Regions from separate parts of the Homo sapiens genome. Here regions 1, 2, 3, 5, 6 and 7 are each reported to be linked to region 4. The links are microRNA targets in miRTarBase. Many come from high-throughput screens and were not tested one by one. Region 4 holds a microRNA gene; each other region holds the end of a gene's coding sequence. Distances are from middle to middle.
Evidence for each region. Region 4 holds the annotated microRNA hsa-miR-1827 (UGAGGCAGUAGAUUGAAU, at 2,543-2,560, opposite strand). A microRNA usually pairs through its seed, bases 2 to 8, with sites in the 3' UTR of a target mRNA and lowers its output. Matches are read on the target gene's strand: a 7mer-m8 pairs with bases 2 to 8, a 7mer-A1 pairs with bases 2 to 7 and ends in A, and an 8mer does both.

Region 1 (4,066 bases), not on the chromosome of region 4:
GAATGTAAGCTTTATTGTATAAAAGATTCTATCTGTCTTGTTGCCCACCGAATCCTCAGGCACCAAGTGTAATACCTGGTGTGTCATAAACATCAAATGACTGATGAATGAAAGGAAGAAATGGTTATATAAGGCACTGTGTTTATAATATTTTGTAGGATCAGTTTCTTTTAAATTATAAATATACAGTAGATAAGTTTGCACACATAGCAAAATAACGTCTAATAAGTATTTTATATTGCAAATTGCTTTTAACAGAAATTCATGGCCAAGCAAAGAAAGGAAAAGGAGCAGAATGAGGCTGAAGAAAGAAGCTCTAGGTGATTGGGGGAAAGGAAAGAATTCACTAGAAATTTGTTTAGGGTCCAGTTGATTTGTGTATTTTTGTTATCATTTAATTTGTAATTTTCGTTTCAGAAGCAAATATTCGTGTTGTACAAATTTCTGATTGCCCTAAATGTAGAGAGACTGATGGGGAAAGTATGATGGGTTTGATTTTTATATCAAATCATCAGGCATGGAGAAATATCTTTTAGAAGTGTTAAAATAAATGTTCCTACTGTATATTTAAAATACCATCTGTGTTTGTGGCTGATTTTTTAAAGACTTGCTTGCCTCTGATTGCAGACAAGGTTTTTCACTACAACTCCTGTGATTTGGGATGTTTGGGGATTCTTCATGTATCACTGGAAGTCATAGCATGACAGTGTTTTACTTTGCTTCAACCATTCATGTGTATACAGGTCATAGATTTCTTAAAATTCAAATTTTTTCTGGATAAAATTAGATTACAGCATATTTTCCCCAAATAGGTTTGAATGAAACTTTGCTTGATTTTTATATGTGTTGGAAAGGTATTTTTTCTGCTTCTGGTAACACTTGCTGTTTCTGCCAGAACCCATTTAAGGTAACACCAAGCTAGTCATTTATTATTAGCTTGAATCTACAGAGCAGCCATTACTTCTGTGGACCACCAGAGTAGCTTTTTAAACCATTTGAATTATAGTTGAATATGTTTATAAGAAGTTTTAAGGGCACAAAAAATAATTGAATGGCTAGCAGGTGATGGAAATAGCCCTATACTTTTAAGTTTTTAGATTGAGCCATTCTTCAGACATAGTCTGAATACTTATAATTGTTTTAGTATTTGATGCCTCAAGATAGAGTGCACCAATTAATAATACAAAGAGGATGAATGGAGGGGAACAACAACAACAACAACAAAAACCCTACTTTTTTTAGATGTCTTATTTCCATCACAGCACAAGAGACATCACAGTCAGTAAGAAGGGCTTGGAGAAAAAAAAAGGCAGCACCTCTTTGTCACCTCCTATGAAACTCACTGCATACTTAGTCGAGACTTACCCACAGCCTGAGTAAAATTACAGAATGCTACACGTCACAGACAAGGGGTGGGGTAGAGAGAGGAGCGGCTTGCTGTCAAGAGTTTGTTGGAATTAAAACCTTACAGATGAATCCGGATAATAAGAGGGAGAAGAGCTGTTAAAAGATTGGGGAATAAGGTGCCTGTAAATTACAGAAGCACAGTGATAGTGAATAAGAATCTTAGTTTTAAAGAATCTTCCTTTCTCCTCAGCTTGCTTTTGGAACTTTTGCAACTAGGGAAGTTATAAGCTTCTTTAATCTTGTCTGGATCAGTCTTTTGAAATTGGGATTCTAAATTAGAATGAGAGGAGGAGCTGCTAAAGCATAAAAATGGTAGGGGTGATTTTTGTGTTTTATCCTAGTGACCAATGTTGACCATTAATTGTACATTATAAATAATGTTTTTCTCTGGGACTTTTTGCACTTAATGCTGGTAATTTTTATCATAGGGCTTCAAATACAAAAGATTTGTATGAGGTTTTCAGAAAATAAACATGCTCTTTGCATATAATTTTAGTATTGTTCTTGGCATTTTCAGAAAATCTTCCTCCTTTAGTCACACCACACAAATGGAACGTCATATACATAGTAGTTTCTGCTTATTAGTTGATTGAGGGATATAATTAGGATTGCAGCTGACTTAATTTTTTTTTTTTTTTTTTTTTTTTGAGACTTTGCTCTTGTTGCCCAGGCTGGAGTGCAGTGGCACGATCTTGGCCCACCGCAACCTCCATCTCCTGGGTTCAGGCGATTCTCCTGCCTCAGCCTCCCGAGTAGCTGGGCCTACGGACATGTGCCACCACGCCCGGCTAATTTTGTATTTTTTTTTTTTTAATAGAGACAGGTTTTCTCCTTGTTGGTCAGGCTGGTCTCAAACTCAGCATCTAGACTCCAAGGCAAAAAAAGTTTACATTCAACATGATCTCTATAAAAGTTTTTAGATTTTATTACCCTTTCTGGCATTAGGATGCTGTGGAAACTTGCCTCTCCAAAATTACTCCTTTTTAATCCTTCTTTAAAAAACATTTATAGGGGAGTCAGGTTTTTAAAACTTAAATTTTTAATTTTACTGATTTGTTATTTGATTGTGGAAAATGTCAAGCATATTAAGACAATAGGATAATTACCCTCATACATTAATTAGTTTCAATAATTATCAACTTAAGGCCAGTTGTGTTTGTCTGTGTGTATCTCTACTCCCAACTCTCTTGTATTACTTTAAATATCAGTATGTTTTACCCGTTAATTGTTCATTGTGTATTTCTAAAATATGAGTTCTTTTTAACCCTTATATTAAAAATATCCAGTACCATTAAAAAATCTCTTATTTAAATAATAGTTTGGTTCAGATTTTCAACTGTTTCATAAATCGTTTTTTTGTGGTTGTTGGTTTACTAAGTCTGAATCCAGATTCAAATAAGATCCATATATTGTGACTGGCTGGTAGGTCCTTTAAATTATACTATTTTGAATATATAGGTTCTTCCCTCCCTACTTCCGTCCTTGTAATTTATTTGGTAAAGAAACTAGATTCTTGGCTGTGCCAAGCAGTGCTGCTCAAAATGTCTTGGGACCCAGGGCAGTGCCAGTTCAGAAACTTTAGTATTAGTTTATGATTACTGAAGTACAGAAATTGAGAGTTTCTAGAAACATTTTGACAGTGATTTTATGTTCATTTATTGAATCTAACAATAAAAAAATTGGAGTTTGTATGTTTTTGTGGGGTTTTTAAAAAAAATTTTTTTTTTGTATTTTACAGAATTATTGGTCTATAGTTAATTGAAAATTAGGGAGAAAAAGAAAACTGATCAAGCACATAGTTTGAGAAGCACTGCTGACAGGTTTCCCCAGGTCTGACTTTGTTGCTTGCAACCATGTAGTACCTTTAACGTGTCCCTTGCTCTCTCTGTAGCTCATAAATTGGTAAGTAAATATAGACACTTGATTAGAGTTTGTTTTTTTCTTTCTTTTTTTTGATGAGACTACTTTAGGCAGTGATGTGGTCTTCCCGATAGGAGGCGCAAACTGATTGCCTTCTTTGGGATTTGAGTAGCAGCTGATGCTTAGTTTTGATCCACTTGTTCATTAGGGGTTGCAAAATAATGATATCTTAATTCTATATCCCTTTTTCATGTGTAAGCAGGAATATTTCTCTGCAAGGAGAAACTCCCCCTCATCTGCTATTTGGCTACTAGCGGTACGGTTTGTGTAAGAAAGACACAGATATGGGATGCTTTTCCTTTACTTACCTATTTTTTTCAGAATGAGTTGATTCTTTGGCATCCACTGTGATAAATTTTTTCTTAAGCATTAGTATGAACTTGTAAATTTTAACATATTTGATGTTTGAAACCTCTGCAGTATTAGTGTTATTGATCCTTATATGTCCCACATTTGATTTGATTTCCTCATTTCTACTAGTAGTTATCTGTATGTCAAGATGTTTCAGGCTCACTTCTCCAGACCTGGGGTCAGCTACTTCTCTAAAGAACAGTGGCTGATTAGGTGTGTTCATTGCTTCTGGACTGGTTATTGCTTTCCCATAGATGGAAATTGAAGTGTATGTTTTGTTTTCTAGACCAGGGTTCTCTGTCACCCAGGCTGGAGTGCAGTGGTGCAATCCTGGCTCACTGTAGCCTCAGCCTCCTGAGTTCAAGTGATTCTCGTGCCTCAGTCTCCC
Region 2 (4,066 bases), not on the chromosome of region 4:
AGTCCTCCCCAGGCTCTTCCTCCCTCTCCATGTGATGCCCAGGGCCTGCCCGTCCTCCCCCTACCTCTCCTGGCCTCCTCCGTTGCTGGGACGCTCGTTCTCTTCCCTGCCTCAGGGGCTGTACTTTGCGCCCCAGCCATCCCCACTCGGCTCAGGTCCCAGCTCATTGCCACCTCCTCAGAGGTCTCCCCTGATCACCCTGGCCGGATGAGCTTCCCCCACCCACTTCATGGTCTTGTTCATTCTCCAACCTGTGTCATAACTTCCTTGAGGATCCTAAGTCTGTCCCGTGTCCTATTCCTGGCCCTCAGTAGGCACTCAAGGGTTGTTGAATGAATGAATGAACAAGCAGCCCTTCTGTTAGCCTTGTCTGCCCCTCCCAGCAGGGAATAACAGTCCCCACCCCTGCCCACAGGAGGCATGATCAGCTTTGACGTCTTCCCCGAGGGCTGGGACAAGCGCTACTGCCTGGATAGCCTGGACCAGGACAGCTTCGACACCATCCACTTCTTTGGGAACGAGACTAGCCCTGTGAGTGTGGCCCACCCCAGGTTTCCCCTAACGCAGTGGACAGTGAGAAGCCAGGTCTGGTGGCTTCTCCAATGCAAATCACCTGAGGTCAAGGCCAGAACATGGGGCAACACAACAGACCTCTTAGGGGGCTCCTGGAGAACAACCATTGCTCACCAGCCCCGTTACACAGATTGGAAAGCTGGGGCCCCAAGAGGCTGGGCACTTGTTCTACATCACACAGCAAGTCAGGGCAGGTCTGACAAGGGGTGAGAAGGTGGGCTTCCTGGCAGTTCTGAAGGGGCAGGAGGAGGGGCAGGTCCGTAGCAGCCAATGTGGAGAGGGACTCCACCTAAATATCCCTCCTCTGCCCATCCTCTGTGTGCAGGGTGGGAACGACTTTGAGATCTTTGCCGACCCCCGGACTGTTGGCCACAGCGTGGTGTCTCCTCAGGACACGGTGCAGCGATGCCGGGAGATTTTCTTCCCAGAGACAGCTCATGAGGCGTGACCGGGGCCCACATCTGTGTGTCGTGACTTCTGAAGAGTTTGGCCTAGGCCTAAAGAGAGGTCCTGGTGTTGGATAGATGCCAGGGCCCCTCCTCTGGCCCAGGACGCCTGCTGCAAGCCCACCCAGATGGGGCCAGAGTCTGTGTGGACAACCGTCCCCAGCCAGTCTGCTCCTAGTGGCACTGGCTTCGTCCTCCCAGGGCCCAGAGTGTTCCCCATGCTCCACCTGGTGGCCCAGGCCACAGCTGCTGCTTGTATTTCGGTACAGAAGAGGTTTCTTTCTGCACCAGGAGGAGGCGTGCTCAAGTATCGGTACGAGATCTAGCCTGCCCTGCCTGCCTGCCCTGGGCGATGAGGTACGGTGGGGAAGGTGCCTATTTTAGAGAACTTTGTCACAGTATTAAAGTTCCCAGAACAAAGTAGGTGTCAGCTGTGTCTGAATGGATAATTGGCCCCAGTCACATGCTGTCACAGCCACTACTTTGCCGACAAGTAAACAGCACAGAGAGGGCAGGGACTTGGCCCAGGTCACAAAGGAAGTCTGATGCAGTCGAGGAGGGGGCCATTGAATCCCCAAAGAAGAGCTGGTTTGGTGTGTCCACCCCCAGCCCCTTCCTTGGGGACCCTGACACAGAGGCAGCTTCAGGCCACGGTGGGTCACAGTTGAGGGTTTATTGCCAGTGTTAGGAAGAATGGGGGGTCTGGGTGGCCAGGGGTCTTGGGAGGAATTCCAAATGAGCACTGCAGGGCCTGTGAGTGGGGAGGAGAGCTGCTGCCCCCCTGCCACCCAGGAGGCCCCAGGGCTGATGCCACCATATCCTGACTGCTAGTGGTGCCTTAAAAGGTGGCCTCCCCACAGGAGGGGAGCCTTGGGGGCCCCCAGGAGTCAGCCCTCACCAACAAGCCCTCTCTCAAGGGGGCCAGGGGCCTTTATTCCTCATGGGACAGGCTGGGCCGTGCCCATTTTAGGGGAGCTGACCACACCTCAGCAGCTCTGGGCTCCCAGATTTTATGTGGTGGGCCCTGGGGCCGGGGGTGGGATGCAGGCATCCCGGCTGATTTCTACCCTGCGGTCTTGGGGCACCTACAAGGCAAGGGATCCTCCTAGACAGTCACTGATCCCCTCATCCTGGGCATTTGAGCCCCCAGTTTTACTCACAGACTGAGTCTCATAAGGGTCCCACCCCTGGCCAGCCCTCCCTCGAACCACGGCCCCACTTCTCCCCGGTCAGGCGATGTGCTCTCTAGAAGGGAGGGTGGTAGGCAGGGGGTGCACCCAGAGGTGGAGGCAGACAGGGCCCTCCTTCCTGGCCTCCTGGGCCAGGCCACCCTCACCCCTGCCTGGGAGTGAATGGCCACGACCCCGGGTGCACACACATCTTGGCCCCAAAAGGACTCCAGGTGACAGCAACAGCCACACATCTTCAGGGATGGATGCAATAAGAGCCACACCTCGGCCACTGGTCTGTTAGGGCTTTGGGAAGAGAGTTTGACGTGGAGGCCGCAGGGCCAGTCTCCCAGGCTGGGGGCCCTCCTCGTGGGTGCCCCGGACGTGTGTCCGTCCCTCGCGGCATCCACAGCAGCCGTCAGCCGGGCATGGCCCAGAGCATCAGTGGGGCTTGTGAGTCAGGGTAAAGGAGGTCTGCAGCCAAGCTGGAGAGATGGACCCCCACCCTCTGCAAACCCCTGGGCTCGGCTCAGTACAGCCCAGGGGAAGGAGCCCAGCGCCACTGCCAGGCTGAGGAGGAGGGACTGGCCGGCGAAATGGGAGCCCCAAACCCCTTCCGCCCTCAGGCCCCTCTTCCTGCCTCTCCATGGCACTGAGAGAGCAGAGCAGGAAGGAAGGCTGGCCTCGGCAGTGAGAGGCCTGTGTGCCTCCGTGTCAGTCCTCCTCCCCTGCCAGAGGCTGAGAGGCTCCCCAAAAGCACCCATCGGCCAGGCTTCTGAGGGAAGGGTCCAGGCTGTGGCGGGGGACCTCAGCCAAGGGAGGGAGATGTAAGTAGCACAGAGAGCCTGGCTCCGGGCCAGGGACTGACACGGGACAGCTCAGGGGCGGAGGCCAGGGAGTGAGCCCAGCGCAGGCTCTCGCAGCTCAGTCACCGTGGGGACGGGTAAGCAGGAGGGCGAGCGGGTCCTGCGTGTCTGCGGCAGGGAGGGGAGGAGAGAGGCAGTGGACAGCGCGAAGCCAGGTCTGGTGGCCTTGCCCTCCACCTACCTCCTGGCCAGCTTGCACAGTAGTCACGGGTCGTGGGGTGGGTGGAGGCACACGCTCATAGCCACAAGCACAGACGGACAGACAGACGTGCACACTGAGGCCACCGAAGGACTCATCAGCCAGGGCAGTGGGGCATGGAGCCGGCTGCTGCCCGTTCACCCTGTGTGGCTCCCCAACCCCCGGCCAGCTGGCCTGTGAACCACTCAGCCTAGGAGCCCACGACCTGGCCAGACCACGTCTCGTGGGGAGTGTGGGGGGCCAGCTGAGTGAGCACCACCTCCACGGCCTGGAACTTCTGGTTCTTGGGAGGGATAGGGCACATCTTGTAGGTCACCTCGTCGCCCTCCACTGGCACGTACTCCCCCTCGATGCTGGCGGGCAGGAAGAGGGGTATTAGCCCAGCAGCAGGCCCTGTGCCCCAGACAATCCTGTGGCCTGGCCTTGGGGGCAGCCTGGCCCTAAGCCTCCCTAGGCCAGGAGGCCTGGCCAGGCCTTGCTTCTCAGAACCTCAGCTCTCGAATCTGTAAAACGGGACTCATGGCTGGGCACAGTGGCTCACGCCTGTAATCCCAGCACTTTGGGAGTCTGAGGCGGGCGGATCACCTGAGTCAGGAGTTTGACACCAACCTGGCCAACATGGCGAAACCCTGGCTCTACTAAAAGTACAAAAATTAGCCAGGCATGGTGGCTGGCACCTGTAATTCCAGCTACTTGGGAGGCTGAGGTGGGAGAATCGCTTGAACCCAGGAAGTGGAGGTTGCACTGAGCCGAGATTGTGCCATTGCACTCCAGCCTGGGCGACAGAGCGAGACTCCCTCTCAAAAAATAAAT
Region 3 (4,066 bases), not on the chromosome of region 4:
CATCCCATGGCCAGAAAGTGGTAAATGAAGACCTGAACTGTATTTGTGCGCAGCCGAGCGTTCTAGGCTCTTTCGCATTTGCAGCCAAAAATGCACTCTGCTGCCTCCTGGCAGTCCAGAGTCAGCATCCTGAAGTCAAGGATGGGTTTTTGGTTCATGGAGCAAGTCCCAAGTTGGGCTCTGAAGTCAGACAGTTTGAGACTGTGTCCTTGCTCTGCCATCATCTGTGGTTAACTTTCAAGCTTCAGTTTCCTTGGCTCTGAAATGGGGACAATCTACCTGCCTTATAGGGATATGGTGGAAATTACATGAGGGGATGTGTTTATCATCTTCCTTGCTGTGTCTAGCACACAGTAAATATTAAAAACATGTTGGGGCTGGGTGTGGTGGCTCACGCCTGTAATCCCAGCACTTGGGATGCCAAGGCATGAGGAGGCCAAGCCGAGGAGTTTGAGGCTAGCCTGGGCAACACAGTGAGACTTCATCTCTACAAAAAATAAAACAATAAATTTACAAAGCATGTTGGTGGAATGAATGAGTTAAAGCTGCCAGTGAAGCCAACTTTTACTTGGAAAAAACATCCTTTGTCCCTTTCAAACCCTCTTAAAACTCCACAAAGATGGGATTTTCTTTGGGAGAGGGTGAGTTTGATGCTGCACATGGGTGAAGAGACTGGAGGGAGTGGAGGTGGCAAGTCTTGGAGTTGTTTGCATCTCTCAGAGAGGTTATCCCAAAGAGATAATAAATAGATGGTGGGAGAAGAATATTTCATTTCATTTGGAAGGCATGGACATCTCCATTCCATCTAAGCACCCTGCTTGTCAGCCACAAAACTTAAAAATTAACTGGATACATTGCCACTGAGGGATAGACTAAATATTTGGTCGGCCAGTCATGCCATATCTGTGCCACTCTGAGTGTAGAGTAGACTGCTAAACATTGCTAAACTCATTGAGAGTGCTTTTTGGGTAAAGATGAGGTATAGGTACTTATATTTTGACAAATCACACAATGCCTCCCTGTCCTTGGGACTTTATCTCATTTCTCCATCTGGATTATTATATTTAGTTCAATGAGGCATGGATTTGGGCATGTTGATTTTGTGGACCTAATGGGTCAATATCTCATGTTTGTTTGGGTCCACAAACATCAGATATTGACCCAAAGTTTGTGAGATGTGGACCCAAACGTGATTGAGATAGCTAGAACAACGTGCTGTCATGTTGGCTCTACCAGCCCCAAAGGTCTGACACAATGGCAGTATTTTATGGGAGGAGTATGGTTTTGTTTTGTTTTATTAAGGTCTGGAAAAAGTCTGTGGACAATTCTGTTTGCCGAGTGTGTGAGTGGGTGTGTAAAAGATACATGTTTTGAATCCCAGGACTTTCAAGAACTATCTAGGGGAAAGGTCTAATTAGACATGCCCCTTCCTCCCTCCCTCCCTGCATCTTTTTCTTTTTCTTTCTCTTTCTTTCTTTCTTTCTTTCTTTCTTTCTTTCTTTCTTTCTTTCTTTCTTTCTTTCCTTCCTTCCTTCCTTCCTTCCTTCCTTCCTTTCCTTCCTTCCTTCCTTCCTTCCTTCCTTCCTTCCTTCCTTCCTTCCTTTCTTTCTTTCTTTCTTTCTTTCTTTCTTTCTTTCTTTCTTTCTTTCTTTCTTTCTTTCTTTCTCTTTCTCTCTCTCTCTTTCTTTCTCTCTCTCTCTCCTCTCTCTCTCTCCCTCTCTCTCTCTCTCTCTCTCTCTCTCTCCCCCTTCCTTCCTTCCCTCCTTCCTTTCTTTTTCTTTCTTTCTATGGCACCCAGCCTTAGTAGCAAATGTTATTTCTGCGTTAAAGTGCCCACATTGATGGGCATGCAATAAATGTTAAATCACAACAATTAAGTTTAATGAGAATTAATGGGTTGTCTCACAGCATTGCCTTGGCTTCCTGGGATGCCTCCTCTACCCTGATTACAAGGCTCTCCCTGGCTGGTCCTGCTCACGTCAGTTCCATCTTAGTGGGGTCATCTAATTTTGCCCCATTCTTCATCGCAGGCTCTGTCCTTCTTTCCTCACCCTGTCAGGGAATGTAAGGTTGCCCCACCCCTTGTCTCCTTTAGCCTCTTCCTGTGCTTTCCCTCAATCCTCTTTCACTCTTACTCTTATGCCTACTTTCTTTCCTCCACATTTTCTTTAACCCCTCCTCTTTCTCCTTCTCCTCTCCCCTGTTTTCTCCTCCAGCCTTCTTTGTCCTACCCTTTTTATAGCAGCTTTCCCCTAGGAAGCACTCCCACCCCAGCCTCGGGCTGCCATGTTCGCACTGGTGTTGTTGCCTTGTGAGTGAAATAGCTCATCTGCCCCAAGTGAGAAGAAAGCAGGGAAAGTCAGGAATATTGCAATGCAAACAATATATATCCAAATATAGATCCTAACCCCAACCCCATATAAAGTTGTTTTTTAGCATGTTGTGCTTTCTTTTTTTCTTTTTTCTTTTTTTAGACAGAATCTCACTCTGTCACCCAGGCTGGAGTGCAGTGGTGCAATCTTGGTTCACTGTAATCTCCGCCTCCCGGGTTCAAGCTATTTTCATGCCTCGGCCTCAAGAGTAGCTGGGATTACAGGTGTGCGCCATCATGCCTGGCTAATTTTTGTATTTTTAGTAGAGATGGGGTTTGATCATGTTGGCCAGGCTGGTCTCAAACTCCTGACCTCAAGTGGTCTGCCCACCTCGGCCTACCAAAGTGCCAGGATTATAGGCATGAGCCACTGCACCTGGCCCACGTTGTGCTTTCTTGAAGTCAGACTATATATCTAAACCCTAACCCCATATAAGATTGTTTGTAAGCACGCTGTGTTTTCTTGAAGTCAGACTGTAGAGCCAGGATGAATTAATTGTCCATAATGCCATACATGGCCCTATCCACAGCCACATGCTTTCTGCTTATCTATTGCATAGGATTATATGTGGGAAAATGGATCGAGAAGCTTAAAGTATGATAATCCTTTGATATTTGGTACTCAGTGATCTCTCTGACCTTCTTAAGTGGAGCATACTCAGGAAGCTGGCTCCTTCTAGTTTTATTGGGTTCTCAGAATGTTCAAAGTATCCACCTCACACCCCGCGCAGAAATCCTCCCTTTGCAGCCAGGATTATGACTTTACAGAGGGAAAAAGATATGGCAGCTACTAGTGGCCAGTGTACAGGCCCCAGAAGATGGCAGAAGTTGTTCTAATGCTTGTTGAGGATATTGTAAGGTCAAAGAAGCAACGCCAACAATCCCACCGTTGTCACACCCCTGCTGCAGCCCCCTTTAGGACACCATAGAAATTCTACACAGTAACACGGGGATGACAAGAGGCCACATACTCCATGCTGGGGCATAAAGTGGGCACGACAATTTTTCACTCCTTGGTCTGAGTAAGCGAGCTTTGTGGCATCAAATCATTATGTTTGTATGTTTGGAAGGCCACGCCATCTATCCTCCCACCCAGGGCAGGAATTTCTGCTCCCACTTTTGCTTTCCTGGAGGTGAAATAGGAAGAACAAGGACCCATGCTCAAGTCCCCAAAGAATGGCAGGATGCCCTCAGTGGAGGCAGACTGTATTTAAATGCAATTCACCTCTTTGGGGTCTAGGAAAAGCCACCCGTAGGTTCATTTGCTGGGAAACACGGTCTGCGTGCCTGAGGCAGTGGACACCAGGGTTGTGGCCTTGCCAAGAGCTGACTTTCTCCGGAGGTCTGTCTGCTGTCCGGAGTGGCAGCCACTTCGGTGGGCAAATAGGACGGTCATCTCTGGGCCCAAGGACGCTGCTTCAGGCTGGGACGCCTTGAGGGTGGCTGGCTGTTCAGGCTTTCCGGAGGTGGGATGGGAGGTGTAATGTTTGGTGGGAGGAGGGCTGTAATTCTGAAATCTCACGGTTTTGACTTGCTGCAAGAGAAAGGAGAGGAAATGGACACAGGTGAGGTGGGAGATGTCTATTTCCCCATGCTTGTCCCCACTTGAAATGTCTCATTTATGTGTTCATTCTGCAAATATCTGTGGCTACCATGAGTGTCAAGTGCTAAGATGGGGGAAGTACAAGATGCTGA
Region 4 (4,066 bases):
ATGTATCTAGCTACCTAGCTAAGTGTATTTTTCTCCTGAAATCCCTTTTACCACTCTGGCCTCTTCTATAAGGACCCTGATCTCATTCCAGAGGGGTCTGCCCTCATGACTTAATCACTTCCCACAAGGCTTCACTCTTACTACTATTATCTTGGGGACTAGGTCTCAACATAGGAATTTTGTGGGGACACAGACATTCAGACCGTGGCACTGATGATGGTTTAGTCATGCCTAGTATTTTTATTTAACTAGGTTGGAGGATTATCTTGTTTGTGTATGAAGGGTTGAAGTATTTATATGTTATGTACTGGCAAACATTTAAAAGTAGATAAATGCAAAGCTGAACCTATTTGGAGCAGTTGCTTCTTAATTGTTTCTGAGTTGGGGGTGCTGTGATGGATGAAGCTCACTTTGGCAGGTATGTGTGGCTGGGGCCAGCCCCACCCCGGTGGACTTCCTTTCCTGAAGGATTCCTAATGGCCCTTAGCATTGACTTCTCTCCTGCTGCACTTGCTTTGCTTGTATGCACATTGCCAGTTTCCTTCCACCATGGAGATAACAATTTCTTGAGAAATGAAAGGAGGGGTCAGATGCATTCGGGGTGGAGGTGTACCAGCTCCCACCTCACTGAGGCATCTGATGAGGGTAGACAGGTGTCCTTGGTCAGACGCTTTTACCTTTGAGGCACTGGGGTGCAGACTTCCCACCTCCAGTCAGAACAAAATATAGACAGTAACAACCCCTTCCTCTAAAGAAAGAAAAGGACCCTGCCATTGTATCTCAGACTGGGAGAGGGAAGGGCATTTTCATTAGCAATTTTCAGTTCTGGTATTTATGTAGTGGGGTCTTAATGATATTTGATTGGGTGTTTACCTATATCGTATCAGGCTAGCCCTCAGCTGGGTTTCGTTTACTTTCACAGAATGAATGTATTGTGGAAATGGTAAACTAGGTAGTCGTGACTAATTAGTGGCTTCTAACTAGTGTTCTGTGAAATACTCTGCCTAAAGTGCTCAGTTCAGTAAACATCCTGAGCACTCGGTTGTGTGAGACCATCTGAGGGGCAAGGAGCTGAGAGGATCCCTAGGGAGACTGTGGCTTTCATGATTGTCCAGTAGGCAGTAGCTCACCAGCCAGCACAGGGGGCCCTCAGTCGGCTAGAGATTCAGGATGGTTTTGCTCCCTGATCTAGTCTTTGAGCATCTGCTGTTGTGTCCTACTAGAGCATCACCTCCTAGGAGGAGATTTTGTCAGTATAGTTCACTACTGTGCCTTTCATGCTTAGAGGATGCCAGATGCTTATTGCCTAACCCAAGCTTTAAGCCCTCATATCCTCTTGGAGTGTGTGTGTGTGTGTGTGTGTGTGTGTGTGTGTGTGTGTGTGTAAACCTCTCCCTCTCTGGATCAGTGAGAGTGTTGTTAAGGTTACAAATAAGAAATGCCTAGCACACTGCCTGACTGATTGTAAGTGCTCTGTAAATGGTGGCTACACACCCCAGGCCTGCTGGCATTGCTGCCACTGTTGCCCCTCTGACTCTTTTGAGCCAGTAGGTGAAGTGTGTCTCCACTCCCTTGGGTGGAGTGGACAGGGTGCCTTTCTCAAGGGCAGTTGTGAGGGCTGAGCTGGCCGGGAAGGTGTGCTCTTCCTTCCAGGCCTCCCTCCCACAGGTCTTCTGCGGGCCCTGCAGTTGGCCCTGCTCTGACTCTTAGTTTTTGCTTCATTCTTGACCCACTCAGGCCTGGTAGAAAGAGTTATCTGTGAGCACGGCGGGGGTTCCCAAGAATCTATTATGGTTTTAGTGTCTAGGACTCTAAAGTCGTGACAGTGACTCGTCTCTTCAGCCCCTGTTTGCAGCAGAGGGCGCAAACCAGCTCAAAGCAGGCACACAGATGTTTGGTGAATTGGGAGAAGTTGTTCCTGTCCAGGAGCCATAACGTGGTATTTGTAATTTTCCTCGTTGGAAGGCATGGCTCTGTCTGCCAAGAAAGACAAGGCATGTAGTCACCATGCTGCTGCCTCACAGTGACATTTTTAAAGCCAGACCTTCTAGAGAAGGAAGCAGGAAGGAAGGCGACTTGCTTTTGGGCCCGTGGAGTTTCAGCAGTTGCGGGAAGTTGGCTGGGCTGTGTGTGTGTGTTGCTGCATTGGTGCCTGGTCTTCTTTGATAGCTCCCAGGAGCATGAGGTTGTGCTTAGCAGTTGTGTCCCATCAGTCCTCTTGGTCTCGATCAGTTCACACGCTCCCAGGGCCCCACGTATCAGAAGGGCCGCCGTTGCATAACACTGTCCATGGAAATCACTGCAGTCATGAGAGGAGCAGTGGCTTTGGCCTGTAGACTCAGAGACCTTTCACCATGACTCAGCATGGGAAGCGGAGGCTCAGAGAACTTCAGCCTGTCTTGTCCAGGGCCACCAAGGGAGCAACTGAGCCATGTCTTCTGTTATATTTAGAGTTGGGGGCTGAGGAGGGGCGCCTATCTGCATTCTCTGCCGGTCCTGGGTCCACCTGTTGCAGGGACCCAATTCTAAGGGACCTGAATCAATTCAATCTACTGCCTCAGCCTTTCAGAGGCTTCTCATTGCTTTAGGCTGAAGGCTGTGCTGCTGAACATGGCCTTCAGGGTCCCATGGGGTCTGACTCCTGTCATTTCCTCTGTTGCAGGCCCACTTGACTTCTTGCAGTTCTTCAGATGTATTGTCTTCCCGACAGGCCCTGCCTCAGGCTGTCCCTTTGCAGGGCGGGCTGTCTCTTCTCTGGTTACTTCTGTTCGTTCTTCAGAGAAGCCTTCCCTGTTCCTCCCATTCCTCACTGCCGTGCTTCTCCTTCACAGCCCTTACCACTGCCTGTAGTTACTGTATTTCTTTGTGTACTCATCTGTGGTCTAGCTCCCTTGCAAGGCTGGGAGCTCCATGGGGCAGGGACCCTGTCTGTCTTGTCTCTGGTTTACCCCAGTGCCTCACACGGCCTGGTACATAGTGGGTGTCCAGCATCGACTTGAGGAAGAGTGATGAGGGAAGGCTCCAGACCCTTTCAGGGGCAGAGTTGCTCTACTGCTCCTGCTCCTGCTGCTTGGGGCTCATCATCCTCTGCCCTGCACACCCGTGGCAGGGGGGGTCTGCCCACACCCACCTGCCTTTGTGCCACACTCCCTTCCCTAGCAGGACGATGGTTCCTCTCAGCACTGTCCTTTTTGTTTGGCCTCCTGGTGGGAGGTGAAGCCAGCTGGACTTCCTGGGTCGAGTGGGGACTTGGAGAACTTTTCTGTCTAGCTAGAGGATTGTAAACACACCAGTCAGCGCTGTGTCTAGCTAAAGGATTGTAAATGCACCAATCAGCACTCTGTAAAAACGCACCAATCAGTGCTCTGTGTCCAGCTAAAGGATTGTAAACACACCAATCAGTACTCTGTAAAATGGATCAATCAGCACTCTGTAAAATGGACCAATCAGCGCTCTGTAAAATGGACCAATGAGCAGGATGTGGGCAGGGACAAATGAGGGAATAAAAGCTGGCCACCCCACCCAGCAGCGGCAACCTGCTCGGGTCCCCTTCCATGCTGTGGAACCTTTGTTCTTTCGCTCTTCATCATAAATCTTACTGCTGCTCACTCTTTGGGTCCGTGCCACCTTTAAGAGCTGCAACACTCACCGCAAAGGTCTGCAGCTTCATTCTTGAAGTTGGCGAGACTAAGAACCCACCAGAAGGAACCAATTCTGGACACTGGGAAGGATGTTACCTTCGGACACAGTGTTGTTCACTTTTTTGACTGGGAACCGACAGCAGATAATACACCTTTGTATGTAAATGTATACTGTCAGTATGTACATAAAACTGAAAGAAAAATGTCACTGCTACATATAGTAAAGCTAAGTACTATTTTCTCTTTTAATACTAAAAAAAATGCTTGTCCCCTCAAAATTGACTTCTTATCTTCTTAATTTGATATCCTGGCCCACAGTGGGTCACCACTCAAGTTTAGAGAAGCCCATTCTGCAGGACTGCCTGGCTGTGCAGCTGGTGCTCCCTCCCTCCCTGCTGCATTTTCCTCTCCCCCTCACTGTGGGA
Region 5 (4,066 bases), 31 Mb from region 4:
TTTGAGACAGAGTTTCACTCTCGTCACCCAGGCTGGTGTGCAATGGCGCAGTCTCGGCTCACTGCAACCTCCGACTCCCTGGTTCAAGTGATTCTCCTGTCTCAGCCTCCCGAGTAGCTGGAATTACAGGCGCCCGCCACCATGCCCAGCTAATTTTTGTATTTTTAGTAGAGACAGTGTTTCGCCATGTTGGCCAGGCTGGTCTCAAACTCCTGACCTCAGGTGATCCACCCGCCTTGGCCTCTCAAAGTGCTGGGATTATAGGCGTAAGCCACTGCGCCCAGCCTACAGTTACGAATTTCTAAATGGCACAAATAAACTCAGCTGTTCTCAGTGCAGACGTCAAATCCTCACTGTGCTGAAACATTTTCCTCAGCTTTTGGGAAATAATTACAATTTAAACATACACAGAGAATGTTTCTTAGACAAACATAATACCCGAGGCTTATCTGGTAAAAACTAATTGCTCTGTCCTTAGCACAAAAAATATATATCTTTGTAAAATGAGAAGAACCAAAGAATATTTAAAACAAAGAAGGAAGCCACACGTACTAATTACACAAGAGACTGACTGACAAACTGGAATTCTCCAAAACAGATTTTCAGCGAGGCTTCTCATTTCAGAGTCCAGGAAAAAAAAATCCTAAAAACCCCAAAGGTATATTATATGTGTGTATATATATTTTTATTGTGTTAAAAAACACAAAACATAAAATTTACTGTCTTATCAAAAGGTATATTTTGTCGCTCTTCCCTTTTTTTTTTTTTTTTTTTCCCGAGACAGAGTCCAGTCTGTCGCCCAGGCTGAAGTGCAGTGGCATGATCTCGGCTCACTGCAACCTGCATCTTCTGGGCTCAAGCAATCCTCCCACCTCAGCCTCCTGAGTAGATGGAGCTACAGGCACGTGCCACTAGGCCCGGCTAATTTTTGTATTTTTTGCAGACAGGGTTTTGCCATGTTGCCCGGGCTGGTCTTTGTTCTCCTAAGAGTTGTTTTCTCCATGAAAGTTGATAAATAACATTTAGAAAATGAATTATTACAAGAGTAATGATATGTCTCAATTTATTATATGAAATTATCAACAACTGCTTTTAATATTCAGATGTCAAGAAGATGAAAAGCAGAAATACATTTTGCAAACATGTAGCACTCCATAAATGGAAATCATGTATTTCCTCTAATATCCCAATTTTTCTATATTGGGATCTTATATGGCTGTTTCTATATGGCTATTTTGTCCCAACTTGCTGTACAAGAATTTTCCCCAGCCACCTTAGAAAGGTTGGATGTAGTTCACTCCAAGTTTGCAGTTCACTCCAAGTGTTTCAGTACCACAGAAAGCTCCATGGAAGCCTCAAATGTACGGGCTAGGCAATAGAAGCAGGGAGGTAGGATTAAGAAATTACTGGCCAGGTGTGGTGGCTCAGGCCTGTAATCCCAGCACTTCGAGAGGCTGAGGCAGACAGATGGCTTGAGCTCAAGAGTTTGAGATCAGCCTGAGCAACATGGCAAAACTCTGTCTCTACAAAAAATATAAAAATCAGCCAGGTATGTTGGTGTGCACCTGTAGTCCCAGCTACTGGGGAGGTTGAGGCAGGAGGATTGCTTGAGCCCAGGAGGCTGAGGCTGCAGTGAGCCATGATTGTGCCACTGCATTCCAGCCTGGTCGACTGTAAGACAAAAAATAAGAAAATAAAAAATTTACCAATATAAAATGCTCAAACAGCTAACAAACATGTTCAATTCCATTTATAGTCTTTTCTTTGAGCCATTTAAACATAGGGCTATTTTTTTTTTTTTTTTTTGAGATGGAGTTTCACTCTTGTTGCCCAGGCTGGAGAGCAATGGCATGATCTCGGCTCACCACAACCTCTGCCTCCTGGGTTCAAGCGATTCTCCTGCCTCAGCCTCCCGAGCAGCTGGGATTACAGGCATGTGCCACCATGCCTGGCTAATTTTGTATTTTTAGTAGAGACGGGATTCCTCCATGTTGGTCAGACTGGTCTTGAACTCCCAACCTCAGGTGATCTGCCTGCCTCAACCTTCCAAAGTGCTGGGATTACAGGTGTGAGCCACTGAGATTGGCTGCCGTTTTGTTTTTTAACTCCATATAGTTTCTATAGTTCACTGAAAACTCAAAGAGATGACCTATAAATGTATGAATAATGTATGATTTCTTACATCAATTTTCTACTAGAAAAAAATCATACTTTTAGAATTGGATTTTGTCTTACAGTCATCTTTATTATACTTTATAAATGAGATTTCATTTATATAAATCAGGAAGCTAAACTAAAATAGAAACACTAGATTTAAATTCTGATTTGAATACTCTGATCAAAATAACAAATCTCACACTGGGAAACCATCTATCAGCAAGCAGAGAGCTACTGTGTGTCCTTCCTTAGAAGAGTTTGAACACCGAGAACCCACAGCATATTTGCAGTACAGTAACAGCAATTCCTTTGTCATTATCACAGAACTTTAATTTTCATATACTTTGCTGGGACCAACCAAACCATCCCATATATATAACCATATCCATATATATATATATATATATCCCACATATATATGGGATGGTATATATATACACATGTATATGTATGTGTGTGTGTATATATGTGTATATATGTATACACACACACACACACACATATATATATATATACACACACACACATATATATATGGAGAGAGAGAGAGAGACAGTGTCTTGCTCTGTCGCCCAGGCTGGAGTGCAGTGGTACGATCTTGGCTCATTGCAACCTCCGCCTCCCAGGCTCAAGCGATTCTCATGTCTCAGTCTCCCAAGTAGCTGGGATTACAGGTGTGCACCACCACACCAGGCTAACCATTCCATACATTTTATACAATCATTTTTAAAAAGAAGCATGAACCATTTCGGTTTTAGAGAATTAAGTTTTTTTAAAAAAGAGACTCTTAAAAAAAAGTCATTATATGAATAAAATCTGCTTTGTGTTAATTCCGACAAATCATTCCATCATTGAGTCTGTCACCAATTTTTTTTTTTTGAAATGGAGTTTCGCTCTTGTTGCCCAGGCTGGAGTGCAATGGTACGATCTCGGCTCACTGCAACCGCCGCCTCCCGGGTTCAAGTGATTCTCCTGCCTCAGCCTCCCGAGTAGCTGGGATTACAGGCATGCGCCACCACGCCTGGCTAATTTTGTATTATTAGTTGAGACAGGGTTTCTCCATGTTGGTCAGGCTGGTCTCGAACTCCTGACCTCAAGTGATCCGCTGGCCTTGGCCTCCCAAAGTGCTGGGATTACAGGCGTGAGCCACCGTGCCTGGCCCAATTTTTTTTTTTTAATAACTTGCACACTTAACAATATTTTTTATCTTCTTGGGACAACATTCTTTTCTCCACAAAAACCCAATTAAGGACGTTGTGCCAGTTTACTCCTACTTCCTTCCTGTTCACTGAGCTTAAAGTGGGTATAGGCGAGAATGCCAAATAATGTACATAAAATGCCAAGGGCCTGATTAATGGACAGTGGATCCTTAAATAAAACATATCCTCCGAATAAAGTAATGCAGAACTTGAAGTGTCCGAACATGTTATAGCTGAGGTTTTTGGATAAGGATAAAAAGGAATAACAAGATAGATGTTAATATTTACACACACACTCGCACTGCATAAAACAACCCAAAAGCAGCCCATCAGATGTAAAGAACAATGGGACCAGGCGTGGTGGATCATGCCTGTAATCCCAGCACTTTGGGAAGCTGAGGTGGTGGATCACTTGAGGCTGGGAATTTGAGACCAGCCTGGCCATCATGGTGAAACCTTGTCTCTACAAAAAATACAAAAATTAGCTGGGCGTGGTGGCACATGCCTTCAATCCCAGCTACTTGGGAGCCTGAGGCATGAGAATCACTTAAACCCAGGAGGTGGAGGTTGCAGTGAGCCAAGAATGCACAACTGCACTCTAGTCCAGGCGACAGAACAAGACTGTCTAAAAAAAGAGAATAATGGGAACTTCTTAGTTTCTTCAGGTAGGTTTTAGCGATTGATTCATCAGAGACACAAGACTGCCTCAA
Region 6 (4,066 bases), not on the chromosome of region 4:
AAAAAAAAAAATCTTCAAATGGAACCCACCTACACCCAAGTTTTCTTTTTTACTTTATTTCTTATTTACTTAATCACATGGTCTTTCCTCTCCTGTGAGAATTAAAGTTGCCAGAAGTTGGTGGGGAAGAAGTCCTGCAGGAGGAAATGTTTGTAAATGTATAATTAATCATGTGTCTTTTTCGTTGTAGGAGAAGATTTACAAATCTCTGCCTGGATGCTGTTTGTGGTTACCTTGTTGAGCTCCAGTCTATGAGCTCGTCAGTAGCAGTACAAGCCATCACTGGGAATTTTAAATCTCTTCAAGCTAAATTAGAACGGCTTCATTAATTACTGTGATATACTTTCATCCGTTTTATGATCTGTAAAATAAAAACTCAGCTGGGTCCAGATATCAGGTGTTCTAAATCTAAGAATGTAAGAACAATCTTAATAGAAATATGTTTTTAATAAGTGGCTAATATCTACAAATAGTACCTTTGCTAAATGAATTCTTTTTTATGACTATTTTGTTTTTTAGTAATTGGGTGAAAAAACAACTGAAATGAGATTATTTATTATTTTAACATAAGGATTAAAAAAATTTAGAAACTCTTATTTTGAATTGTACTGCAGGCAGAAATTTCGAATTTATATTATTCATTTTCAAGTTAGTCCAAGGATATTGGCATTAAAACTCCACTAGGCGGCCAGGCACAGTGACTTACACCTGTAATCCCAGCACTTTGGGAGGCCAAGGTGGGCGAATCACGAGGCCAAGAGTTTGAGACCAACCTGGCCAACATGGTGAAACCCCATCTCTACTAAAAATACAAAAAAAAATAGCCAGGCGTGGTGGCGGGCGCCTGTAATCCCAGCTACTCGGGAGGCTGAGGGAGGCGAATCACTTGAACCCGGGAGGCAGAGGTTTCAGTGAGTCAAAATCGCACCATTGCACTCCAGCCCAGGCAACAGGGCGAGACTCTGTCTCAAAAAACAAAAAAACCTCAAATAGGCTAAGCAGATCCATTCCCATAATAGTGGATTCTAAAACCGTCCTTAAATAGGCAAATAACTGACTTTTTCAAAACTTTTTTTAGGTGTTGGGTTCACCCTTGAAAGAACTGTCCTCTAACAACTGGTTTTGTCAGTTAAAGCCCTTGAGAATTGACATAGCTATATACCTGGTTGAGCAGGTGATAAAACTTGTAACTAATGTTGTGTCCTGAAAACCTACACAGGGAGGTACTGTTTTCCCTTAGTGTCTACCTGGCTGCTTGGCCTTGTGACTACTGATTCCATTAGAGCAGTGGTTCTCAAAGTATGTGCTCCAAACCAGAAGCATCAGCATCAGCATCAGCATCACCTAGGAATTTGTTAGAAATGCAAATTCTCGAGCCCCAACCCAGACCTACTGAATCAAAAACGTGGGGGATGAGGCCCTGCTTTCTATGTTTTAACAAGCTCTCCAGGAGATTTTGGTGCATGTCAAATTTGAAAGCCACTGCAGTAAAGGATACTGCTACCTTCCATAGTTTATGGACTGAGCTACCTATCTGGCTCCTCCTCTGTGAATAACCACACACACAAATTTTGCCCAAGGCACACAATATATAAAGCAAAACTGTTAGTAATGTACTTTTTAATTATTCCTTAACAAAATAGAATAACCAAACCAAATGCTTCAAAGTAATAGCAACAAGAGAGAAGAAGAGTGGGAATGACCAGAGCTAACAAAACACTCTATTCCTTTCTCTCTTTTTTTTTTTTTTGGAGACAGAATCTCACCCTGTAGCCCAGCCTGGAGTGCAGTGGTGCGATCCCGGCTCACTGCAACCTCTGCCTCACAGGTTTGAAGCAATTTGCCTGCCTCAGCCTCTCGAGTAGCTGGGATTGCAGGTGTGCGCCACCATACCCAGCTAATTTTTGTATTTTTAGTAGAGATGGGTTTCACCATGTTGGCCAGGCTGGTCTTGAACTCCTGACCTCAAGTGATCTGCCCGCCTCCACCTCCCAAAGTGTTGAGATTACAGACGTGAGCCAATGTGCCTGGCCTATTCCCTTCTCTCTTTATGCTACCACAAATAATTACCTTCTGTTTATTGTAAGTGATGCATGTCTAACAATTTGTACAATACATTTTGAATATATTTTTCCTTCCATTATTGTCTTTTCCCAAGACCATAGGGTTGCCTTCTCTACATTTGTTCTCTTAGAATTCAGCTCCCTTTTCCCTATAATCTTCTAATGTAGAATATTTAATAGAATGCCAGAACGTCACTCAGTGGGTACTACTACCTCTTATTTTTCAACTTTTCAGTTTCTTAAGTTTAGCGTTTTTTGAATATGTAAAGTGAATGTATGCGATACATTAATTCGTTTTATAAATTTAAAATTCTGTCATGTCTACTTAAAAGGAAGGCCTTGTCTGAATGTTGTAATTTAGGTGTGACTCCAGTTCTGCTAGAGATAAGAACTTCATTTTTGTTTTAAGCACATTTACATACTAGCAATATGTTGTTATATATACTCAGCTCACAACATTGAAAGTACATGTTTTAAAAGGGCTGTAGGCTTCCATGGTTAGATGGTCTGTTAGAGTCAGAAATCTGAACACTGTCCTTTTATTCACACAGCATGCTTTGAGAGGTTTTAGGAATTCCAGCCCCACAACAGATGCTTGCAATACCTTTTGGGGGGTAAGATTCCTAAGAGAGAAGAAATTAGGTCCCCTCATTTTTACCCTTGGAACAGTGTTTCTAAAACTTTCACATTCAGAACAATCAGCCGGATAGCCTGTTATGACAGATTCTTGAGTTCCATCTGTAGTGTCATGCTGATCCTGGCAGTCAGTGGATCAGAGTTGGAGTAGCATTTATCCACTGTATTAGTATACTTTGTACTTGGTGTTTGTTCAACGCATTACTTTTTTGAATTTTTTTGTTTTTTGAAGACAAGGGCTTGCCCTGGAGTGCAGTGGCATGATCTTGGCTCACTGCAGCCTCGAGCTCCTGGGCTCAACTCAGTCTTCCCACCTCATCCTCTTAAATAGCTGGGACTACAGGCACGTGCTGCTACACCCTGCTATTGTCTGTTTGTTTGTTTGAGACTGAGTTTTGCTCTTGTTGCCCAGGCTGGAGTGCAATGGCACAATCTTGGCTCACCACAGCCTTTTTTATGAGACTGAGTTTTGCTCTTGTTGCCCAGGCTGGAGTGCAATGGCACGATCTTGGCTCACCACAACCTCCACTTCCTGGGTTCAAGCAATTCTTCTGCCTCAGCCTCCCGAGTAGCTGAGATTACAGGCATGCGCCACCATGCCTGGCTAATTTTTTTTTTTTGTATTTTTAGTAGAGATGGGGTTTCACCGTGTTGGTCAGGCTGGTCTTGAACTCCTGACCTCAGGTGATCCACCCCCCTTGGCCTCCCAAAGAGCTGGGATTACAGGCATGAGCCACTGCGCCTAGCCCCACCCCCCCTACTTTTTTTTTTTTTTTTTTTTTAATTTTTTGTGTAGCCAAAAGATCTCACTCTGTTGCCCAGACTGCTCTCAAAACTCCTGGCCTTAAGTGATTCCCCTGCCTCAGTCTCCCAAAGTGCTGGGATTATAGGCATGAGCCACCATGCCTGTCCATTATTTCTTTATAGTGACTATTATATGTAGGCAATGTATAATTGGTAGAACATAGTCTATGAAACAGTGCGTTAATTGTGGGCAGTGAAGAATCATTGAAGTTGTGAAATTTGTATTTTAACTAGATCATTGTAGTATGGCAAAACGGTTAGGAAAGAGAAAGCTATCTTGACTAACTGTTTATGCTATGAGATACTGACTGATGTACATGTACATTTAGTGTTTCTTTAGGTATACCTGACTTATTCATTGAACACCTATCCACTGATCTCAAAAGTATTCCTCAGGGTAGTCTCCATTCCTGTCATTTTTCCTCCTATTCATGAGACGGAAAAATTATGACCATGGTACAGAGTTGTATCAAGGAAATGAAGAACTAGAACATTGAATTGAAAGGTTTTGAAAGGGTTCACAATTTCTTTTCATTTTCTATTAATGTCTTCTTTTAAATTCT
Region 7 (4,063 bases), not on the chromosome of region 4:
ACCTTCTAGAGAGGGCAGTGTTCAAGGTGTGGATCATTTTAATGTACTGAGGAACAAATCAAAGCAAACACAGGAAATAATCTTTCGAATATGATCAAATAAGGTGGGAGAACCCAGAAGCCGTGCAGCTCAAATACTGTGTCTGACTCCAACTTGGATCAAATGACTCTAATTTTGAAAGTGATGGATGAGTTCCCCACGCTGTGCAGCTCCGTGGTGAAGTTCACTGTGTTTTGCTTTTGTTTTGAAAGGCAAAGAAGTTCTGTAATGCCAGTAGTACCCTGTTGTTTTTCTAGGTTGTTAGGCTTATGTCTTTGTGGACAGGATATTTTTTCAACATAGTACAAATACAGTCAAGAAGTGAGGAGCTGAAACAAGCTCCATGAGTTTAGGGTGAGACTGAGCGATGGGCTGTCATGATTCAAGTTGAGGTGGCATCTCTTTCTCAGGGTTTTCAAACGGCGCAGACTGCAGAGTCTCCCGGGCCAGTTCCAATAAGTTCCAAGTGGCATGATGCCCACAGGAAGTAGGCGCACTAAGGAGAGGACTTTGGTCCCAAAGAATCATCAAAGAGAGACGGAGAAGAAACGGTACCATCCAGGGAAGGAATGCGGGGCATCACTTTTTGGTGTTTAGACCATGACATTGTTGGCCTAGGGGCTATGGTGGCATCGGGGCACGCATGTCAAATCCACTTTTTCTGGCAAAAGCAACAAGGACACACACAGAAAAATGCTCCATGAAATTGGCCCTACCTTTAAGACAGACGCTGGTGAGAGGTGAATCCTACAGAGAAATGAAAACACATTACAATTCTGTACCAGAACTGCTGCTGATGTGAAGTCCATCCACCACGACGGAAATCCCCGGAGAATCCAGGCTCAGAAGGACACTGGCAACAGCTGGAGGAAAAGCACCTCCTGGGTCCTAAAATCTTTCTGGGCTCTCCTCAAGGACCGGAGAGATGGCACAGAGACAACTTTCATGGCGACGCCAGGCTGCGCCCTCCTGTGCAGTGGTCCCAGCCATCTCCTCCCTGGCACGTGCACAGACAGTGCTCACCCATGGTGACCGCAACTGCACAGAGAAACGCTGAAGTTAAACTGTCAGGGTGAAGGATACGGAGAGTCTTGGGCGCTTGGCTCCACGGGAAGCAAACACTTTCCCCTGCGACAGTGGCTGTATCCTTCCTGAGCTCCTGGCGGGCCACACACTCTAGCTTCCTAGATGGGCTCCAGAGAGCTCCTGGAGGATCCCCTCCCTCCAACGCAGCACCTCCTCCTCCGTGCTACCACTGAAAAGGGAGACAGAAGTGACATTTGTGCTGCAAGTCCCTGTTCTTTTGTGGCCACCACATTCCCTCACCCTCGTCTCAAATACAACAGGAACAGCTGAGCTTGAAAAGGCCACAGTGAAGGATCATCAAAGAGTCAGCGCGGGGAAAATGCCAAAGATCTGGAAATGGATGCCCTTTCCAATCGTTTGACAGAGTTGAACTCCACAAGACTGAGCGTTTAAGGCCAAAAGCATGTGGCTGAGAAGGCAGGGGTGGAAAACCGCAGAGAGTTCAAAACTTGAGCTTAAAGGAGAGATGCCCGGGGCAAGCCAGCCACAGATCCCAGAGACATTTCTGTCGGGGTACAACTGACACACTCCTCCCATCTGAGGTCCCCAGGCAGATGCATCAGCCGAACTCTAAAACTTGATTCTAGAAATCGACTGCAGGGGAGACCAAAACGCCTCATCCATAAAATATGTGTTTTCCATTCTCATCTGTAACCATTACAGAATGTTAAGAAGGGTGAGCTTGAGCAATCAAAGTTTCCAAAATCCCACTGAGAATCATATCTGGAAATGTCACAGAAATGCAAGCAGCTCATCAGCCCACCGCAGAATTTTACTGGAACTGTGGAGACTCTAGTCCAAGGGACGAGCTCAAGGTGATTGTGGTGAAAAAGCAGGAAGGGTGAGAAGCCTCTGCTTCCAGTGTCTGCTTGGGAACTGTGGGAGGGTTTGGTTTCCTTGCATAAGTTTAAGAAGGCATCTTGGCAGCCACCACAGCGGAACACTGTAGTCCACAGGGTCTGAGTGGAGATATGGAATCGCTCATGAGGATATGGAGATGGCTTCTGGTCCAAGAGGCCAGCCAACTCTCGCAGCCACAGCTTTGTCTGCACGTGACCTGGCGGATTTAACACAACTGCCCAGGAAATTCCACAAGCAAACTCAAAGCCAGAAAGAGCTGTAAGAATGGCCGAGTCAGAACTGGGACCAGACCCTTCTTATTCTTTCTTTTTCTAATTTTTGTACGATCTGGATCTTCCTTTCCAGCATGAGTGGGGTGAATGCCAGCAGGAGACAGTGTGCTCACCACCGCACCCTCAGGGTCCACACCTGTCACTTCACAGGAATGGAGGTCCAGAGTGATGAGAAGTCACCCAAGATCTCAGAGTTTGTTCTCAGCGAAACCAGGGTGCCAAGTGGCTGACTCCAGATTCACTGCTCCTGCTGCATCATGCCTGGTTCATATGCTGCCAGCTAGGGCAGAACGAGACAGAAGGGACGCTCAGAGGGACTCCTGCTCGGTGACCTGCTGCAGTGATCCTTCTAAGGGGGACGTAGCTGGTTGATGAAATGCTTCCCTCACATCTCTTTCCCTTCCTCCTCTCTGAAACTAAGCTTTTCCTTTGATATATAATCCAACATTTGCCTAAAAGACTCACTCCCTGATCCGGCTACGATTAAACAACAACACTGGAGATAGTTGAGGGTCTAGAAAAGACTGGGTAGAGTTTGTCTCTACAGATGTTCTAGGCTTCAATCAAAAACCATCCAGTTGGGCCGGGGCGTAGTGGCTCACACCTGTAATCCCAGCACGTTGGGAGGCCGAGGCGGGCAGATCACTTGAGGTTGGGAGTTCAAGACTAGCCTGACCAACATGGTGAAACCCTGTCTCTACCAAAAATACAAAAATTAGCCAGGCATGGTGGTGGGTGCCTGTAATCCCAGCTACTTGGGAGGCTGAGGCAGGAGAATCACTTGAACCCGGGAGAGAGAGGTTGCAGTGAGCTGAGATTGCGCCACTGCATTACAACCTGGGCGACAGAGCAAGACCCTGTCTCAAAAAACACAACAAAATGAACAACAAACAAACAAACAAACAAACAAACCATCTAGTTGCATGGAGATGCCTGCCGGCCTTCCTTCACTCCCCGTATTCCTAAAAGGCACCTCTAACAGAGGACAGAGCTTTAGCACATGTTTTTATAAGGATGTCGCTGCCAGCTGCATTGCAAAGGAGTTGCCACCAAGATGAAACCGCAAGTGCCACTCAACCAGGGTCACACGCCTATCCATGGGAAACTGCATATATAAATGTGCTCGTGTGATTACAGGAAACACTACAGCATGGCGTGAGGTTTCTTCCTTGGCGACATTCTTTGTTTTCAAAGAATGCAGTCCTCATCTGAGGAAACCCTGCTCCAAGGGAGCTGCCTGATTTGGGGCAGGAGAAAGGCAAAACGTGGGTGAGCCAAGAAGCAGGCCCACGTCTGGCAGGGTCTGATGCATGACTTTAACTGGCACTCCCCAGAAGCGACTGCTGCTGTGCTTTGAAAACATGGAAACAGCTCACAGGCTGGCGGAGGCAGAAGATCCTGGGCTTCTGGTTTTCTGGTGATACTTAGTGGCTGTACCATTTAACATATCCCGGAAAATCAAAGTTTCAGTCCTGGAAACCTTTACCAACACCGCATCCCAGCAATAATGGGCCACCTCCCGAGGGCAGACTCAGTTGGCGTACTGGGCGTAGAAAGCCACTTTGACTCTCTCGATCTGGTGGCATAACTTGATGGCAGGCCCCAGCTTCAGCTCCATGCACTCCTGCACCGTCGGAAGGGTCAGAAGCAGGAGTGCTTGGCCGTCAATATCCTGCAGGAAAAGAAAGGCAGGTTAGAGAAGGGGCAGTGTGCACTGGGGTACACAGATGCGTCACAGCAGGCTCCAGTCCGGGGCCAAACATGACAACAGGATGCTCTTGTTTCATTCAATTCAGGGGATTGTT

Region 1: the mRNA of ZNF638 is a reported target of hsa-miR-1827. The part of its 3' UTR that is shown has no 7-base or 8-base seed match.
Region 2: the mRNA of CSDC2 is a reported target of hsa-miR-1827. Seed matches in the 3' UTR shown: 7mer-m8 at 3,185-3,191 and 7mer-m8 at 2,306-2,312.
Region 3: miRTarBase lists SH3RF2 as a target of hsa-miR-1827. Seed matches in the 3' UTR shown: 7mer-m8 at 3,568-3,574.
Region 5: the mRNA of SLC35E3 is a reported target of hsa-miR-1827. Seed matches in the 3' UTR shown: 8mer at 1,591-1,598 and 8mer at 1,456-1,463.
Region 6: the mRNA of NUP155 is a reported target of hsa-miR-1827. Seed matches in the 3' UTR shown: 8mer at 1,818-1,825, 8mer at 1,845-1,852, 8mer at 3,251-3,258 and 8mer at 3,557-3,564.
Region 7: the mRNA of SFMBT2 is a reported target of hsa-miR-1827. Seed matches in the 3' UTR shown: 7mer-m8 at 3,644-3,650 and 8mer at 3,023-3,030.

The regions. Positions count from the first base shown.
Region 1 is chr2:71,434,484-71,438,549 of GRCh38, forward strand. It overlaps ZNF638 (zinc finger protein 638), which reads left to right. Exons shown (of 28, transcript NM_014497.5): 28 at 259-578. The coding sequence ends at 324. Among named protein-coding and RNA genes, the nearest start is that of DYSF, 30 kb to the right of the region's middle.
Region 2 is chr22:41,574,273-41,578,338 of GRCh38, reverse strand. It overlaps CSDC2 (cold shock domain containing C2), which reads right to left. Exons shown (of 4, transcript NM_014460.4): 4 at 1,673-3,606. The coding sequence ends at 3,444. PMM1 (phosphomannomutase 1) reads left to right here. Exons shown (of 8, transcript NM_002676.3): 7 at 416-531; 8 at 899-1,439. The coding sequence ends at 1,021. Among named protein-coding and RNA genes, the nearest start is that of PMM1, 14 kb to the left of the region's middle.
Region 3 is chr5:146,062,265-146,066,330 of GRCh38, reverse strand. SH3RF2 (SH3 domain containing ring finger 2) reads right to left here. Exons shown (of 10, transcript NM_152550.4): 10 at 3,039-3,905. The coding sequence ends at 3,630. All of the region lies in intron 1 of LOC107986458 (a long non-coding RNA gene), which reads left to right. Among named protein-coding and RNA genes, the nearest start is that of PLAC8L1, 41 kb to the left of the region's middle.
Region 4 is chr12:100,188,426-100,192,491 of GRCh38, reverse strand. It overlaps MIR1827 (microRNA 1827), which reads right to left and starts at 2,608; the gene lies at 2,543-2,608.
Region 5 is chr12:68,764,227-68,768,292 of GRCh38, reverse strand. It overlaps SLC35E3 (solute carrier family 35 member E3), which reads right to left. Exons shown (of 5, transcript NM_018656.5): 5 at 1-3,589. The coding sequence ends at 3,403. Among named protein-coding and RNA genes, the nearest start is that of SLC35E3, 20 kb to the right of the region's middle.
Region 6 is chr5:37,288,163-37,292,228 of GRCh38, reverse strand. NUP155 (nucleoporin 155) reads left to right here. Exons shown (of 35, transcript NM_153485.3): 35 at 191-4,066. The coding sequence ends at 329. Among named protein-coding and RNA genes, the nearest start is that of CPLANE1, 41 kb to the right of the region's middle.
Region 7 is chr10:7,159,981-7,164,043 of GRCh38, forward strand. SFMBT2 (Scm like with four mbt domains 2) reads right to left here. Exons shown (of 21, transcript NM_001387889.1): 21 at 1-3,930. The coding sequence ends at 3,790. Among named protein-coding and RNA genes, the nearest start is that of SNORD129, 25 kb to the right of the region's middle.